Regions from separate parts of the Homo sapiens genome. Here region 1 is linked to region 2. Evidence: fine-mapped expression QTL. Tissue or cell type: whole blood. Region 2 holds a variant in brackets; the other region holds the start of a gene. All regions are shown on one strand. Distances are between the middles of the regions.

The links. PIP is the estimated chance that this variant, and not a neighbour inherited with it, causes the effect.
Region 1: it holds the start of POLR2C, and the variant in region 2 is fine-mapped to the expression of POLR2C in whole blood (TOPMed, PIP above 0.99).

The regions. Positions count from the first base shown.
Region 1 is chr16:57,457,755-57,465,754 of GRCh38, forward strand. POLR2C (RNA polymerase II subunit C) reads left to right here and starts at 4,925. Exons shown (of 9, transcript NM_032940.3): 1 at 4,925-5,056; 2 at 5,275-5,324. The coding sequence starts at 4,971. COQ9 (coenzyme Q9) reads left to right here. Exons shown (of 9, transcript NM_020312.4): 6 at 492-596; 7 at 1,811-1,966; 8 at 2,297-2,350; 9 at 2,835-3,516. The coding sequence ends at 2,870. RefSeq lists an enhancer at 4,783-5,077.
Region 2 is chr16:57,419,646-57,427,887 of GRCh38, forward strand. No RefSeq gene overlaps it. Among named protein-coding and RNA genes, the nearest start is that of CCL17, 19 kb to the left of the region's middle. The variant A/G (reference allele first, on the strand shown) is at 3,714.

The DNA.
Region 1 (8,000 bases), 38 kb after region 2:
CAGCATAGTGTTTTCTTCTGGGCTGCTTCACTAAGAGAAAACCTTACAGCCAATCCAGGACCTCTCTGATCACCTCCCCAGTGGATGTAGCATTGGTAAAGTGGAAGGACCTTGTTCTGTTTGTCAGTAGGAGCTGATGTGTGTGAACGGACTCCTATCTCTGCTTCTTCCTTTGTGTGACAGACTGGGGTATCTTTGCCCATCCTTGCTTAGACCAGTCTAGACCCTCTGGCCCTCTGCATTCCCAGTTCCAAATGCTAGGGATGGAGAATGTGCTTGGGCTTGCATAAGACGGGGCTATGCCCCTGGCTCTCCTCAGCTGTAGTCAGCATTGCTAGCTGCCCACAACTCACGCCAGTGGGTGAAGATGCTGGTCTCAGAGAACCAGAGCTTGGCAGGCCCCCTCATACACCTCTTGGAGAGGTAGATGCTGGTCAACTATGCACCATTACCTGTGAGCAGAGCTTACTCCTCTGCCATTCTCTCTCCAGGCCCTCAGCATCCTCATGCTCCCTCACAACATCCCGTCCAGCCTGAGCCTGCTCACCAGCATGGTGGATGACATGTGGCATTACGCTGGGGACCAGTCCACTGATGTGAGTGCTTTCTGCAGGCCCACAGGAGGCTGGGAAAGGCTTGTGTTAAGCATTTCTTCAAGAAGCTTGTGAAATTGCTTTGATCATAAGCCCCTGCAGGGGGGCTGCAGTGTCATTCCCATCTAAGGTATGAGGAAGGTCCGTCAAGAAGCCAAAGTGGGATCTAGGTCATCTTCATTCAGGGACCAGCATTCTAGCCACAAACCAGTTATTATTTCTTCCAGCTTGTGGTGACACCAGGTGTCAGAGATCCTTTAGCATTGGCGAAAGCTAATTGGGCTGCCATTTTATTATCATTTCCCTCTCTCCTAAGATGTAGATTCTGCAGCAAAATTCCTCTTTTGAAAAAAAGAAATGCCATGGAGGCACCCATTGCTTTAAAAAGAAATTCCCTTCCCCAGCCCATCTTGGCCTGCTTTGCTAAGTGATCAATAAGGCTCTTTAAACAGCACCAGGAAAGAATCCGACTTGTTAATGCTATCATATTTCTGGTAGGAAATTTTAAAAAATACACCTTCATAAAAGAAAATGTGATGATACTTTGTGGAATCCTGGATGAGGAGGCACAGAAATACTCCCACCATAGTTATAACAAAGTGTTTTAATAAACTTCCTCCATGTGGGAATATAATGCCAACAGAGACGGTAGGAAAATGAAATTAGAAAGCAAAGAAATTAAAGGAATAAAACACCAAGCAGCTGAGCTGGTCCTCTGAAGAGTAGTTTGCTAGAACAATCAGAAGTTGCTGAGGGACTTGAACTCTCAGCTTTGCCCAGGTATTGTAATCTGTCCATGAGCCTCTCTCAGCCCTCACTTTATTGATGAACACACCAAGGTTCGGTCATAGCTGGCTGATTACAGCGTCTTCTGGGACTCAGATGTCTTAAGATGTAGGCTTTCTACTAGCAGTTCCAAAATGGATTGGATGTAGCCAAATCATCTGGGATACTTATTAAGTTTCCTGATTCCTGGCACTTTATTTAGATCCATTGACTCTACTCTTAAGAGGTTGGGCCCAGGAGCTTGCATTTTTAATCAAGTAGGTAATTCTGATGCTCAGTCAAGTTTGAGATGGTAGTGTTGTCCAGAGGGCCAGATGTATCTGTGACAGTCAAGAAGTAGTCAAGAGGGAACCCAGGAGTTCCCATGGCCTTGGGTAGGAACTGCCTCAGACTTGCACCAGCCCACAGCGGTAGTGTGGGTTTCTTTACAGTTTAACTGGTACACCCGCCGAGCCATGCTGGCTGCCATCTACAACACAACAGAGCTGGTGATGATGCAGGACTCCTCTCCAGACTTTGAGGACACTTGGCGCTTCCTGGAAAACCGGGTTAATGATGCAATGAACATGGGCCACACTGCCAAGCAGGTAGGTGGGGACTAGCCATTGGGGAACCCTCTTTAGAAGGCATACCTATTCTCCTCAGGTCACAGCTGGTCTTGCTCCCTTTTGGCCTCAGCTGACAGTCCTGAGGGCCTTCCCAAGGGCCTGGCTGGTTCTTCCTCAGGCCAGCCCTTCCCTAAGAGCCACACTTTGCTCATTTGCATTTGTGATTGTGTTGTCCAAAGCTCTCCTTCCAGTAACGTGGCCCCCTTGTCTTCACCTTTTGGGGCTCATAGGCCTCCTGATTTGTCCTGCCTGTCTCAAGTTTAACTTTGTGTTGGTGGCCTAAGGGAACCTGACACTGACTCCTTCTAGGTAAAGTCCACAGGAGAGGCACTGGTGCAAGGACTCATGGGTGCAGCAGTGACGGTGAGTACTGCCCAGCACATCCCTGCCCCTCCTCTCTCCCATTCCGGCTCTGTGATACATGTGTTACTGACTTCACATCATTTTGTAGCCCTAACCTGGAAACAATAATCTAATAATAAGGCTGACAATGGTTCAGCCCTAGTGTCTTGATTCCAAAAACCTCACTTCTTTATTTTTTCCTGTCATCAGGAGATATCACTGACTCCTGGGACCCTGGTATATCAAGTCTCTGTATCATAGCCACACCTGCCACCTTGCAAACCTGGATCTTGGCCAGGTGCAGTGGCTCATGCATATCATCTCAGCGATTTGGGAAGATCGCTTGAGCCCAGGAGTTTGAGGACAGTCTGGCCAACATAGCAAAACCCTGTCTCTATGCAAAAAAGAAAAAAAAAAAGAGAAAAAGAAAAGCTAGGTCTTTTCTATTAGAGTCTAGAGGCAAGGTAAGCCCTCACTATTCTCTTTATTTCCATTCCCGTGTCAGCTCAAGAACTTGACAGGTCTAAACCAGCGTCGGTGAGAGGAAGGGGTATAAGCTACAATGCCTAGAAGAGAATGAGCGGACAGATTGAAAGAGCTTTGAAAAGTATAAGGTGCCATCCACATAACCTGGTGTTCACGAGAACACACTAAAGGACTCCTGAGTCACTACCACAGCCACCTGGAAACCACAAGGCATTTGATGCTACCGTTCTGGTCAGGGATTGGGCTGCTTCTTCAGTTCCTAATACCAGACCAAGCCTCCTGATGCCTTTCTGCACTGCAACTGTGTGATTGAAAAATGAGATGTTCATCCAAGCAGTCAAGCCACAGAAACCCAGCATGTCCCTGTCACAATCTCATGGGCACCTTGATCATGTCTTAACCTTCCCTTAACCTTGGGGCTCCCAAGCCAGAGTCAAGGTCTGACGCCACCTCAAGGTGACAGCTCATCTCCAGCACAGCACAGGCGTGTGCACACAGAGGTGTTCCTTGCAGCCCCCTCCCTCTCAGGTGTCCTGAGATGCTGTTCCTGGGAGCCCCCTCAGAAAACTGCCTCACCTGAGACAAGTGCCTGCTGGACAGAGGTGTGATTCCAGGCCTGGTGTCACATGACACCAGCATGCATTGCAGGATTATTAGTGTATTTTGAGTCTGTAAAAATAATAAATATGTTTGAAGTAGTTTCCCATTGTGTAGTTAGTTTCCTTATCAATCATGATAGGTATCCAGGACCCCAGAGGGAGACAGGTTAAGTTATGGCAGCCAGGAGACCTGTGTTCTGGCGCTGCCACTGCCTAATACATAGTGGTAATTATAGTACCTCTGCGTCTCTGGGCTCAAGTCTTCCCATCAGTAAAATACGGGTAACAGAAGCCTTCCCACAGACCATCAGCTCCCTTGGCTGCTCTTGTCTGACGATTTTAGTGGTACATTCTTTAGCCCCAGTAATTTTCTCAGCCTCTACACTGGCTGGGTTCCCTTTGCACGTCTGGTTAGCTCTGTTTTCTGCTTTGCTCTCTTCTGCCTGTCAGCTGAATATTAATGGGGGAAAGTCAGCAACTAATTGAATTTCAGATCTCTTGTGGGTCTTCCACTGGATCTTTTTTGCACCTCTCAATTCCTTGTATCTCTTGACATCCTGTGAAGTTTTCGCAGTAGCTGTTCCAGTTTTCATTGCATTCTCCTTTTTCCTTCATAGCATCCATCTTACACTCAGCAGACAACCATAATTCTTAATTTACCAAGATGACACAGGTTATGGAGCAGGGTTCCATCAGTGCCCACCCTCTGTTTCAGGAAGAGGTGTCACTCTTTGCAAAGGCAAACTCCTCTTTATCTGGTTACTCTTCTCCCAACTCTTAAATGTATTTCCTGCCACGTTCTATTTTAGAGCTTTTCTCTGTTGGAGCAGCAGCCACTTTTTTTGAGGCCCATTTAAACCTCTCTCCAGTCTGTTTAGGGGACTTCAGTAGTTCTTTGTTGAGCATGCACCCCACATGGTGCCCACTGCCAGGCACTGGGGATGCAGAGACAAAGAGTTCCCACTCACCCACCACAGCTACACAGACTGTAGAGGAAGCATTAGGTTAAAGAACATTGTATCTTTTCCTGAAGTTTTCAGAAGTGCATGGTCCATACTTGAGACTGCAAGGGAAAGGGTATTTACTTATAATTCAGGTATACTTTGCTAAAATATACATTCATATTAAAATATACTTTTGTTTTTCTATAGATGTACAAGTTCTTTTTAAGTGCTTCATAGTATTCCATGTGTGTATACTCCACCAGGTCTCTTATCAATGGACAGTACAAACAGTACTACCACGAACGTCCCTGCACTCGTATCTTTGTTTACAACTGCAAGTGTTTCTGCAGTATGAATTCTTAGAAGTGTTACTGTTAAGTGAAGGACGTATGCGTGTTTTGCCAAACTACCCTCCGAGATAGCTGAATCTGGTACATTTTAAAGCAGGAGGCCGCAGAAGACGCTCGGCAGTTCTGGCCTCCGAGCAGCAGGCGGCGCTGTGAGTCGTCTTTGCGGAAGCCGCGGAGGCCTCGCTGACTGACTTCCGGTGTTGGCGGTGGCGCCGCGCAGTCACCGCGGAGCAGACGCGGAGGCTGGTGGCCCCTGGGCGAGATGCCGTACGCCAACCAGCCTACCGTGCGGATCACGGAGCTCACTGACGAGAATGTCAAGTTCATCATCGAGAACACCGACCTGGCGTAAGGCTACCGAGGGAAGAGGCTGGCGGCTCTGGGGCGCCGGGAGGCCCAAGCCGGGGCCCCGGGGCAGGGGGCGGGGGTGTAGTGGGGTGGGGTGGGGGCGATGTCCTTCCAGAGCTGCCCCCCTGCACCAGGGCTTTAGCTTTGGGAGCCTGCGGCGCGGGCCCAGCCTGTCGAGGCTGCAGCGCCTTCACGCCCCTTGGCTTTTGATCTTTCAGGGTGGCCAATTCGATTCGGAGGGTCTTCATCGCTGAGGTTCCCATAATAGGTAAGCGACTCCCCTTCCTCGTTCCCGCGCCCACGGGTTCCTGCCCCGCTCTCCACCCACACACTCTTTGGGGCTCCTTCCAGTCCTTGGTTCGGGCTGAGGGTGGTAGTGCTGAGAAAAGTGCATTGCTGGAGACTTGACCATACCCTGTGCCCTTGGCTCAGTGGCCGCCTCCCTGGCGCCCACGGGCCACTTAGGTCCACCCTTGTCCTGGGTATGCATTGCTGAGAAGCATGGGTTTAGCAGTGTGCAGACTTGGGTTCAAATACTGTTTTCACTACTATTGTTACAAAAGTTTTTAAAATGTTTTCAACTTTTATTTTGGAGTCAAGGGGTACATTGGTGCAGGTTTGTTGCCTGGGTATAGTGCGTGATGCTGAGATTTGGGGTATAAATGATCCTTTCACCCAGGTAGTGAGCATAGTACGCAATAGGTAGTTTTTCACCCCTAGCCCCACTGCCTCCCTTCCAGCTCTAGTAGTCACCAGTGTGTTTATTGTCATCTTTATGTCCGTGCGTACCCAGTTTTAGCTCCCATGCGGTGTTTGGTTTTCTGTTCCTGTGTTAATTCTCTTAGGATAATGGCTTCCAGGCCGCGCTCGCGCCTGTAATTCCAGCACTTTGGGAGGCCAAGACTGAGGAACACCTGAGGCCAGGAGTTTGAGACCAGCCTGGCCAACATGGGGAAAGCCCGCCTCTACTAAAAATGCAAAAATTAGCCAGGTGTGGTGGCTCCCACCTGTAATCCCAGCTACTGGGGAGGCTGAGGCAGAATTGATTGAACCCAGAAGGTGGAGGTTGCAGTGAGCCGAGATCATGCCACTGCACTCTGGCCTGGGCAATAGAGTGAGACTCCTTCTCAAACAAAAGAAAATAAAAAAGAAGATAGTGGCTTCCAGCCACGTCCATGTTGCTGCAGAGGACATGATTTCGTTCGTTCTTATGGCTGCATCACTTACTGCTTTTGTGAAACTTGGGCAAGTTATTAAACTTCTGTGTGCTGCAGTTTCCTCATCTGTAACATTCGGCCACTAATGATCCTTATCAGGGTAATGTTAAGGATTAAGTGAGGTAATCCATATAAGTGCTTTGTGTTTAGTGAGTGCTCAGTGCTGGTAGATGGCTTTTTTATTAATCTATTCCTTCAACAGCATTTATGGAGCATGAAAGTGGCAGGCATGGTGGTAAGCTCTGGGAATGCAAAGCTGTAGAGAACAGGGTTTTTGCCCTCATGGAGTCCACAGTGAGGTTGTAGGGGAGAGATGAATCCACAGACAACACTAAAGCAAGGTAGATTTTGATCAGTAGTTCAGGAGAAGCATAGCTGTGGTGCACTTGGCTCTTAGAGGAGGGAAGATCAATTTCTGGTCTGGTTCCAGCCACTCTGCTCCAGGTGCTTAATGCATTGATTATACTTGTATGAAATACTTCAAGCATTTCTGAGAGTCAGCTCAGAGAGTTTGGATTAGGCAAAATAAATATAAGTCATAGCTGTGGCATCAAATATTCAGACTTTTAAGGAAATAAGCAGGCCAAATGATTAGGCAAGAGAACATTGTAGTTTATCCACTACCACCACCACCCCACCCCCCCGCCCCCCAGTCACTTCTTAAATTCAGCTTGGAGTGCTGGACCTCCCCCTGCCTAAGCACTTCATGCCTCTGGACCTCAGTTTCATCAGGAGTCAGGTGAGGGAGTTGTACTTCATGATGCAGCCCTGCCATTCTGAGTCTAAATGCCTCTTTCCCAACAAATTCAGTTCTACAAATAATATTGAGCACCCATGCTAGGAATACAAAGACATCCCAGGACCTGCGTGAAGGAATTTCTGAAGCTTGAGGTATAGACATAACATACACAAATATGACACAAGGCACACTATGACAAGTGTCTTGAGGGAAGTCTGAACAGAGTTTTGTGAGAGAGGAGTTGAAAGGGAGGGAATGTCACATCTGTAGCATAGAGAGCAGGCAAGGCTTAGTTTTCAGGAGGCACAGAGGATCTTAACCTGTACAGCAAGGAGGGGAAGGGTGTGCTGGAGGGAAGGGCTGGGGGATTAAAGAGGCAGAAAAGCTTGGGTCAGGGTTCTCTCAGTTGGCTTGGACTGGGGAAGCAATGGGAAGCATAGCAGGACAGAGCAGGTGGAGGCCTGGCAGGGGGAGGTCCTCTTCCGACCGCTGTTCCTAGTGTCTGTGTCCCTCGTTTGGCAGTTGGGCTCCAGTGCCATTTGATTCCTGGATTTAGTTGGTTCCATGCAAATGTTTATGAATGAATAAATGTGTGTTTAAGTCAAGCATGTGTGATCGATAATACAGTCTTTACCCTCCTACGAGCTCATTGCTGCTAGGGATTGGGTTCTATATTTAGTATACTTTGCGCATTAAAAGAATTCAGTAAACATTTGTTGATTGAGTGTTTAAAAAGTGCTAAGTTGGGCAGTCCAGTCATTATATCCTAAAATGAGGTATGGCCCCATAAGTCTGTGTTGCTTCTGTGAGGGTTTCCCTGACTTTGAAGTGCTCAAATAGTTCATGTTCTTGGATTTAGTGGTGGCACAGGTAGCAGATTTAAGTGCTTCTCATGCAAATACTCAGCTCAAATAAACATGTTTCCACTTCTATGATATTCTATAAGTCAGTGTTTTCTGTGAAGCAGGGAGCCCCCTGCATTAAATTC
Region 2 (8,242 bases):
AGCCAGACCCGGGCTGCTTCCCCTGGCCTGCCTTGCACTTCGGGTGGAAACCCCACAAAAGGCTGTGGCCTGTGCTGTTCTGATCCTTCCTTTCAGCCTCCTGACCAAACTTGGTGCTCCCCCTGTGGCCCCGTGTGTGGTCCTGCGTGTGTGCCATGCCCTGTTCTCCTGGGAGATGCAAGTGATGAATTCTTTCAGTGTCCTTGGTCGCTCTGTGTTGTCACTCAGTCACCTCCATCAATTCAAATCCTGGGGGTACATTTTAAATTTTTTAAATTGATGCATAGTAATTGTACATATTTATGGGATACATATGATACTGTGACACAAGCATACAATGCATAGTGATCAGATCAAGGTAATCAGGATATCCATCACCTCGAACATTTATCATTTCACTGTGTTGGGAACGTTTCAAATCTTCTCTTCTAGCTATTTTGAAATATACAATAGGCTGGGCATAGTGGCTCACACCTGTAATCCCAGCACTCTGGGAGGCCAAGGTGGGAGGATCACTTGAGCCCAGGAGTCTGAGACCAGTCTGGGCAACATAGTGAGACTCAGTCTTTACGAAATGCACAAATTAGCCAGGCATGGTAGCATGCGCCTGTGCTGCCAGCTACTCAGGAGGCTGAGGTGGGAGGATCACTTGAGCACAGCAGGTCAAGGCTGCAGTGAACTGTGATGGTGCCACTGCACTCCAGCCGGGGTTACAGAGGGAGACCCTGTCTCAAAAAGAAAAAAAAGGCTGGGCATGGTGGCTCACGCCTGTAATCCTAGCACTTTGGGAGGCCAAAGTAGGTAGATCACCTGAGGTCAGGAGTTCTAGACCAGCTTGGCCAACATGATGAAACCCCATCTTTACTAAAAATACAAAAAAATTAGCTGGATGTGGTGGCTGGCACCTGTAATCCTAGCTACTCGGGAGGCTGAGGCAGGAGAATCGCTTGAACCCGGGAGAGGTTGCAGTGAGCCAAGATTGCACCATTGCACTCCAGCCTGGGCGATAAGAGTGAAACTCCATCTCAAAGAAAGAAAGAAAGAAAGAAAAAGAAAGGAAGGAAGGAAGGAAGGAAGAAAAGAAAGAAAGAAAAAAGAAATACACAATAAATTGTTTACTATAGTCACCCTACTGTGCAATCGAACACTGGAAATTATTCCTTCTATCCAGCTGTTTGTTTGTACCCATTAACCAATCTCTCCCCATCACCCCTCTCCCCTAAATAGAACTACCATATGATCCAGCAATCCTACTACTGGGTATTTATCCAAAGGAAAGGAAATCAATATATCAAAGGGATACCTGCACCCCCATGTTTATTGCAGCACTATTCACAATAGCCAAAATATGAAATCAACCCGTGTCCATCAATGGAGTAATAAATAAATAAATTTGGTACATGTACACAACAGAGTACGATTCAGCCATAAAAAAAGAAGGAAATCCTGTCATTTGCAGCAAAATGGATGGACAGTCATTATGTTAAGTGAAATAAGCCAGGCACAGAAAGACAAATATCTCATGTTCTCACTCATATGTGGGAGCTAAAAAAAGTTTATCTTCGAAAGTACATTTTAACACAAAGGGTCAGGGACCTGTTTGGAGTCTCTGCTTTGCCACTGACTGGCCGTCGGACCTGGACACATGCGCCTCACCTGCCTGAGCCTCACCTGCCTGAGCCTATTTCTCCATGAAGCAATGGAACTGGACCTTCTCTCACCTGTTTGGGGATGTGCCAATATGGCTACTCCTCTACCTCTCACATCGCCCTTAGCGGACCACAGTCTTAGAAAACCTGCCGTTTCTGGTCGGACGCAGTGGCTCACAATCATGAGGTCAAGCGATCGAGACCAGTGTGACCAACATGGTGAAACCCCGTCTCTACTAAAAATACAAAAATTAGCCAGGCATGGTGGCGCGTGCCTGTAATCCCAGCTACTCGGGAGGCTGAGGCAGGAGAATCACTTGAACTCGGGAGGCAGAGGTTGCAGTGAGCCGAGATCACGCCATTGCACTCCAGCCTGGGTGACAGAGTGAGAGTGAGACTCTGTCTCAAAAAAAAAAAAAAGAAAAAGAAAAGAAAAGAAAGAAAAGAAAACCTGCCATTTCCTCATAATTGAACTGCCATCACCTGGATATTCCCTGTGCCCTTCTCCAAAGCCAGCATGGCAACCACGGGGGTGAAATACTCAGACGAGCAAAGGGATCAGGGCTTTAAGAAGCCAGCCTTCAGCCAAGCATGGTGGCTCACACCTGTAATCCCAGCACTTTGAGGGGCCGAGGCAGGCGGATCACTTGAGGTCAGGAGTTCAAGACCAGCCTGGCCAACAGGGTGAAACTCTGACAGTACTAAAAATACAAAAATTAGCTGGGCATGGTGGTGCATGCCTGTAATCCCAGCTACTTGGGAGGCCGAGGCAGGGGGATTGCTTGAACCTGGGAGGTAGAGGCTGCAGTGAGCCCAGATCAGTCCACTGCACTCCAGCCTGGGCAACAGAGTGAGACTCTGTCTCAAAACAAACCAACCAACCAACCCTGACCAGTACTCCTCAAAATGATCAAGCTCATCCAAAACAAGGAAAGTCTGAGAAACTGTCACAGCCAAAAATCAGCTTTCAAAGGACTTGTTAAGTCCTTGCACATACATGTTCATGGTGGGATATTTACTACAGCACAAAGCTGGAAACAGCCCAAGGCCTATCAACAGCTGAATGGATAAACAAAAGTGGTCTAACCATATAAGGAAGATTTTTCTGCATGGATACGCCCTACGATATGGGTGAAGCTCGAAACACTCTGTTAAGCTAAAGAAGCCAAACGCAGAAGGTCACACAGTGTATAATTTCATTCATATGAAATGTCAGAAGTAACTCCATGGAGTCAGAACGCCCACTGGTGGTGACCAGAGATGGTGGGAGAGGAAGACCGGAAGGGACTGCTTACTGGGGATGGGGTTTCCTTTCAGGGCAATGAAAACATTTTGGAACTAGATAGAGGTGGTGGTTGCACCACACTGTGAATGTACCAAATGCTGCTGAATTGTTTATTTTAAATCGTTCATTTTATGTTATGTGAATTTCATAAAAAAGACATATTCAATATTCACTTTTCTGTAGAGTAGCAGGCTTGGATGAGACATATATCAGCTCAGGACAAAGGAGTCCTCTGGGAGGACAGCGAAGGGATTTTGCCACTGCTGTATCACTTGTGTACGAAAAAAAGGAGTGATCAGAATCACACACAGCAAAGCTAGTTGTCTATTGGAAATTCTCTGTATTTGAAATCTTTCATGATTTAAGAGAAAAAATGTTTAAGTAATAATAGAAAATCAAAAAGGAAGGAAGGAAGGAGGAAAGGAAGGAAGGGAGGGAGGGAGGAAGGAAGGGAGGGAGGGAGGGAGGAAGGAGGAAAGGGAGGGAGGGAGGGGAAGGGATGGAGAGAGGAAGGAAGGAAGGGAAGGAAGGAAAAGGAAGAAAGGGGAAGGAAGGGAAGAGGAGAAGGAAGGAAGGATGGATGGTGGGAGGGAAGGGAGGGAGGGAGGGGGAGGAAGGGAGGGAGGGGAAGCAATGAAGGAGGGAGGGAGGGAAGGAGGGGAAGGAAGGAAGAGAGGGAAGGAGTGAGGGAGGGGAAGGGAGGGAGGGAAGGAGGGGAAGGAAGGAAGAGAGGGAAGGAGTGAGGGAGGGGAAGGAAGGGAGGAAAGAAGGAAGGAAAG[A/G]AAGGAGCATTCTAACCCAGCTGAGTCTGAACGCAGTCTCCAGATCAGCACAGAGGTTTGCAGAGGTGAAAGCCTCATGCTGGATGGTGGGCCACGGGTAACCAATGACCAGACCACCAGCTTGACCACCAGGAGTGACCACTGAAGGTGAGATCTGAAGTCACTGAGGGCTGAGTGGGGGCTTCTGTCCCTGCTTTCCCCGAGAGGGGTGAAGTAAGAGCCACCCAAGAGCTGCCCCATCCCCACCCCTACTTAGCACAAAGCTATTTTATACATTTGTGTAATTTGTAGCAAAAATTTTGGTCACAAACAGTATTCACCTGCTCTGTGACAACCTTCTCCCTCTGTTACTATTATTCTGAGGCAGCTTTATATATATAGATGCCGTACTAGTTCCACTTTAAAAATTTTGCATGAGATGATAACGGGGTCAAGTGTTCCACAGAGGTTCGTGTCGGGGAGAAGCAGGACTTTGTCCTGGGCTAGCAGTATTCTTCTTAAGACCCAGGGTTTCATGTGAGAGGTTTTCAGGTTTTTTCAATGAAGTTTCTTAGAAATACAAATCCACTGGTCGGGCGTGGTGGCTCACGCCTGTTAATCCCAGCACTTTGGGAGGCTGAGGCGAGTGGATCACCTGAGGTCAGGAGTTCAAGACCAGCCTGGCTAACATGGTGAAACCCCGTCTCTACTAAAAAATACAAAAAATTAGCCGGGCGCGGTGGCGGGCGCCTGTAGTCCCAGCTACTCGGGAGGCTGAGGCAGGAGAATGGCGTGAACCCGGGAAGCGGAGCTTGCAGTGAGCCGAGATTGCGCCACTGCAGTCCGCAGTCCGACCTGGGCGACAGAGCGAGACTCTGTCTCAAAAAAAAAAAAAAAAAAAAAAAAGAAGAAGAAATACAAATCCATCATGTATATAGCAGGTATACAAACACATAAAAATAAACACTTGTATACCCACCGTCCAGCCTAAAGAAATAGAACTTTCCTGCTGATGAAGTCCTGCCTCTTTCTCCCGTCTCCCTTTGGAGCCAACTGTGGTCCTGAATTATATCATTCCCCTTGAGCTCTTTATTAGTTTTGTCACACACATACATGTGTGTATACATCATGTATATGCACATATGTATGTGTATATCCTTAATGACAGGCTGATGCATCTGGCATGTTTTTGAACTTTATGTAAATGAAATATTTCTCACACACACACACACACACACACACTTCTGTGACTTGCTTTTGTGGCTTCTGTTGCTTCGTGATTCTTCCATGTTGAAGTGCACAGCTATAGCTCATCACTGCTGTGCAGTGTTCCACTGCTTGGACGCACAGCTCATTCATTCACGCTCTTGTTAATGGACATTTGGATTGTCTCTTAGAAGTACTGCTGCTTTGAATACTTGTCTCCTGGTGCATGGGCCAAAGAATTTCTCTAGGGCAGTGGTTCTCAATCCTGGCTGCACTCTACAATGACCTGGGAGAGCTTTGCAAAAATGCTGATGCCCTGGGCCCTACTCCAAGGGATTCTGACTGAATTGGGTTTTGGAGAGGAAATCCAGGAATAGGCTTTTGTTTTGTTTTGTTTTGGTTTATTTTTGGAAGCTATCCAGGTGATTCTAATATGCAGCCAGTGTTCAAAGTGACATGAGGGTGACATTGCCCAAAGTATCCCTACCAACAGGGAGTTCTCACCCGGCCACATTTTCACCAATACTTGGTAAGGTTTCTGTTTAGCCTTCTCCCTGCCACAAGGACAGGCAGCTGGGCTGTTCACAGTCTCTCTTCTCCAGTGCAGAGACCAGGGTGCTTCCAGCATGCCAGGCTCCGCTGTGGGGTTCTCCCTTCAGCCCCACTGCCTGCCTGTGCCCTTGGACCCCACTGTTACACACGAGGGCCCATTCTGCAGCTCAGGGGTATCTTCATCTGGAGCAGGTTTGCACCCTCATCTGCTCTCCCTTCTCTCCTGTCCACACTCTGGCTCCAAAGCCTCTGCTCTCATCTCCTTCCAAGTATTTTGTGGTTCTGTTTTGGCTGCCTCCTAACCCCAAGGAAGGTAATGGTTTGTCTCTGCTGTCCCCTCCATTTACTGATTTTGAATGATTTCGGAAGGGGGAAGTCCCAAATGTACACTGCCAAGTTCTAAGCTAGAGACTTTAGAAAACTAAAAAAGAAGAAATATTACACCCCCAGCCCCATCTCGGTCCACATTGGGCTGACTCAGAACATCCAAGGACATCAGGCCTCAGTACTTTTTTTTTTTTTTGAGATGGAGTTTCACTCTTGTCACCCAGGCTGGAGGGCAATGGCACCATCTTGCCTTACTGCAACCTCCGCCTCCTGGGTTCAAGCGATTCAACTGCCTCAGCCTCCAAAGTAGCTGGGATTACAGGCATGCACCACCACACCTGGCTAATTTTTGTATTTTTAGTAGAGGTGGGGTTTCACCATGTTGGCCAGGCTGGTCTCGAACTCCTGACTTCAAGTGATCCACCTGCCTCGGCCTTCCAAAGTGCTGGGATTACAGGTGTGAGCCACTGTGCCGGGCCAGGCCTCAGTACTTTATTTTTTTGAGACGGAGTCTCGCTGTGTCTCCCAGGCTGGAGTGCAGTGGTGTGATCTCGGCTCACTGCCAGCTCTGCCTCCCAGGTCCAAGCGATTCTCCTGCCTCAGCCTCCCGAGTAGCTGGGACTACAAGGCACCCACCACCACACCCGGCTAATTTTTTGTATTTTTAGTAGAGATGGGGTTTCACTGTGTTAGCCAGGAGGGTCTCAATCTCCTGACCTCATGATCTGCCCACCTCAGCCTCCCAAAGTGCTGGGATTACAGGCGTGAGCCACCACACCCGGCCAGGCCTCAGTACTTTTAAGAGGTGCTCAGGTGAATGATGGCAGCAGGTTACCCTCCCAGTCTCACCCTTTCCTCAGATGTAAGATGAGGTTGCATTCAGTGATTATAAGAGCCCATGTTGGCTCCAATACTGTGAGCTTGCTGAACGCTGAAACCTCTAGCCTGTCTGGCTGTTGCCTCACTGGGTGCAGGTGTAGGTGCAGGTGTGTCTGAGCCCCCGGCCCAGGTGTGTCCTGCTGATTGGCAAGGACTCTTCCCTCACTCTGGGCCCCAGACTCCGAGCTAGCTGGCTTGCCCCGGACCCTGTGGAGTGACACGGCAACTGCCGGCATAAAATCATTAACTATGCCAACTGCAGCAGACAGGAGATGGCAGTATCCTTTTTGCCAGCAACAGCTGGGACTCAGAGCAAGAATCGGCGAGGGCTTGTGGCATTTGCTAGGCCTGTCCAGGAAGCTCTGGCTCAGGATCTCTTGTCCTCAACATGGAGGTTGAGATTTTTGTCCTTCATATGGGCAAGTGCAGCAGAAGCAACCAACAGTGGCCCTGCAGCTTAATAATTATGTTACTATCGGACCAGGCAGTGGCTCACACCTATAATCCCAGCACTTTGGGAGGCCGAGGCAGGTGAATCACAAGGTCAGGAGTTTGAGACCAGCCTGGCTAACATGGTAAAACCCCGTCTCTATTAAAAATACAAAAAATTAGCTGGGCGTGGTGGTACATGCCTGTAGTCCCAGCTACTCGGGAGGCTGAGGCAGGAGAATCGCTTGAACCTGGGAGGCAGAGCTTGCAGTGAACCGAGATCACACCACTGCACTCCAGCCTGGGTGAGAGAGCGAGACTCCATCTCAAAATAATAATAATAAATAATAATTTTGTTACTGTCAAACCATTCTGGGGCTGAATTAGTTTCCTACTGCTGTGTAACCAACGACCTCACATTTAGCTGCTTAAAACACCCATTTCTTATCACAAGTTCTGTGGGCCAGGAGTCCTGGCACAGAAGACCGGGGCCTCTACTCAGGATCTTACAAGGTGCCGGCTAGGCTGCATTCTCAACTGGAACTTGGGGTCCTCTCCAAGCTAACCTGGTTGTTGGCAGAATGCGGTTCCTTGCAGCTGTGGACTAAGGTCCCCTTTTTCTCGACTGTCTGCCAGCATGTGAGGAGCCTGCACTCACAGTTCCTTGCCAATGGCCCTCTCCCTACTTGGCAACTGATATGGTTAGGCTTCGTGTCCCCACCCAAATCTCATCTTGAATTGTAATCCCCATAATCCCCACGTGTCAAGCGAGAGGGGTGGAGGTAACTGAATCATGAGGGCGGTTTCCCCCATGCTGTTCTGATGATAGTGAGTTCTCACAAGATCTGATGGTTTTATAAGGGGCTCTTCCTCCTTTGCTCAGCATGTCTCCTCCCTGCCACCTTGTGAAGGAGGTGTCTTGCTTCCCCTTCGCCTTCCGCCATGATTGTAAGTTGCCTGAGGCCTCCCCAGCCATGCAGAACTGTGAGTCAATTAAACCTCTTCCCTTTAAAAATTACCCAGTCTCGGGCAGTTCTTTATAGTAGTATGAAAACAGACTAATACAGCACTTACTTCTTCATGGCTAGCAAGAGAAATTCTTCTCTAGTTCTTTTAAAGGATCAACTGATTGGGTCAAGCCTACTCAGGATAATCTC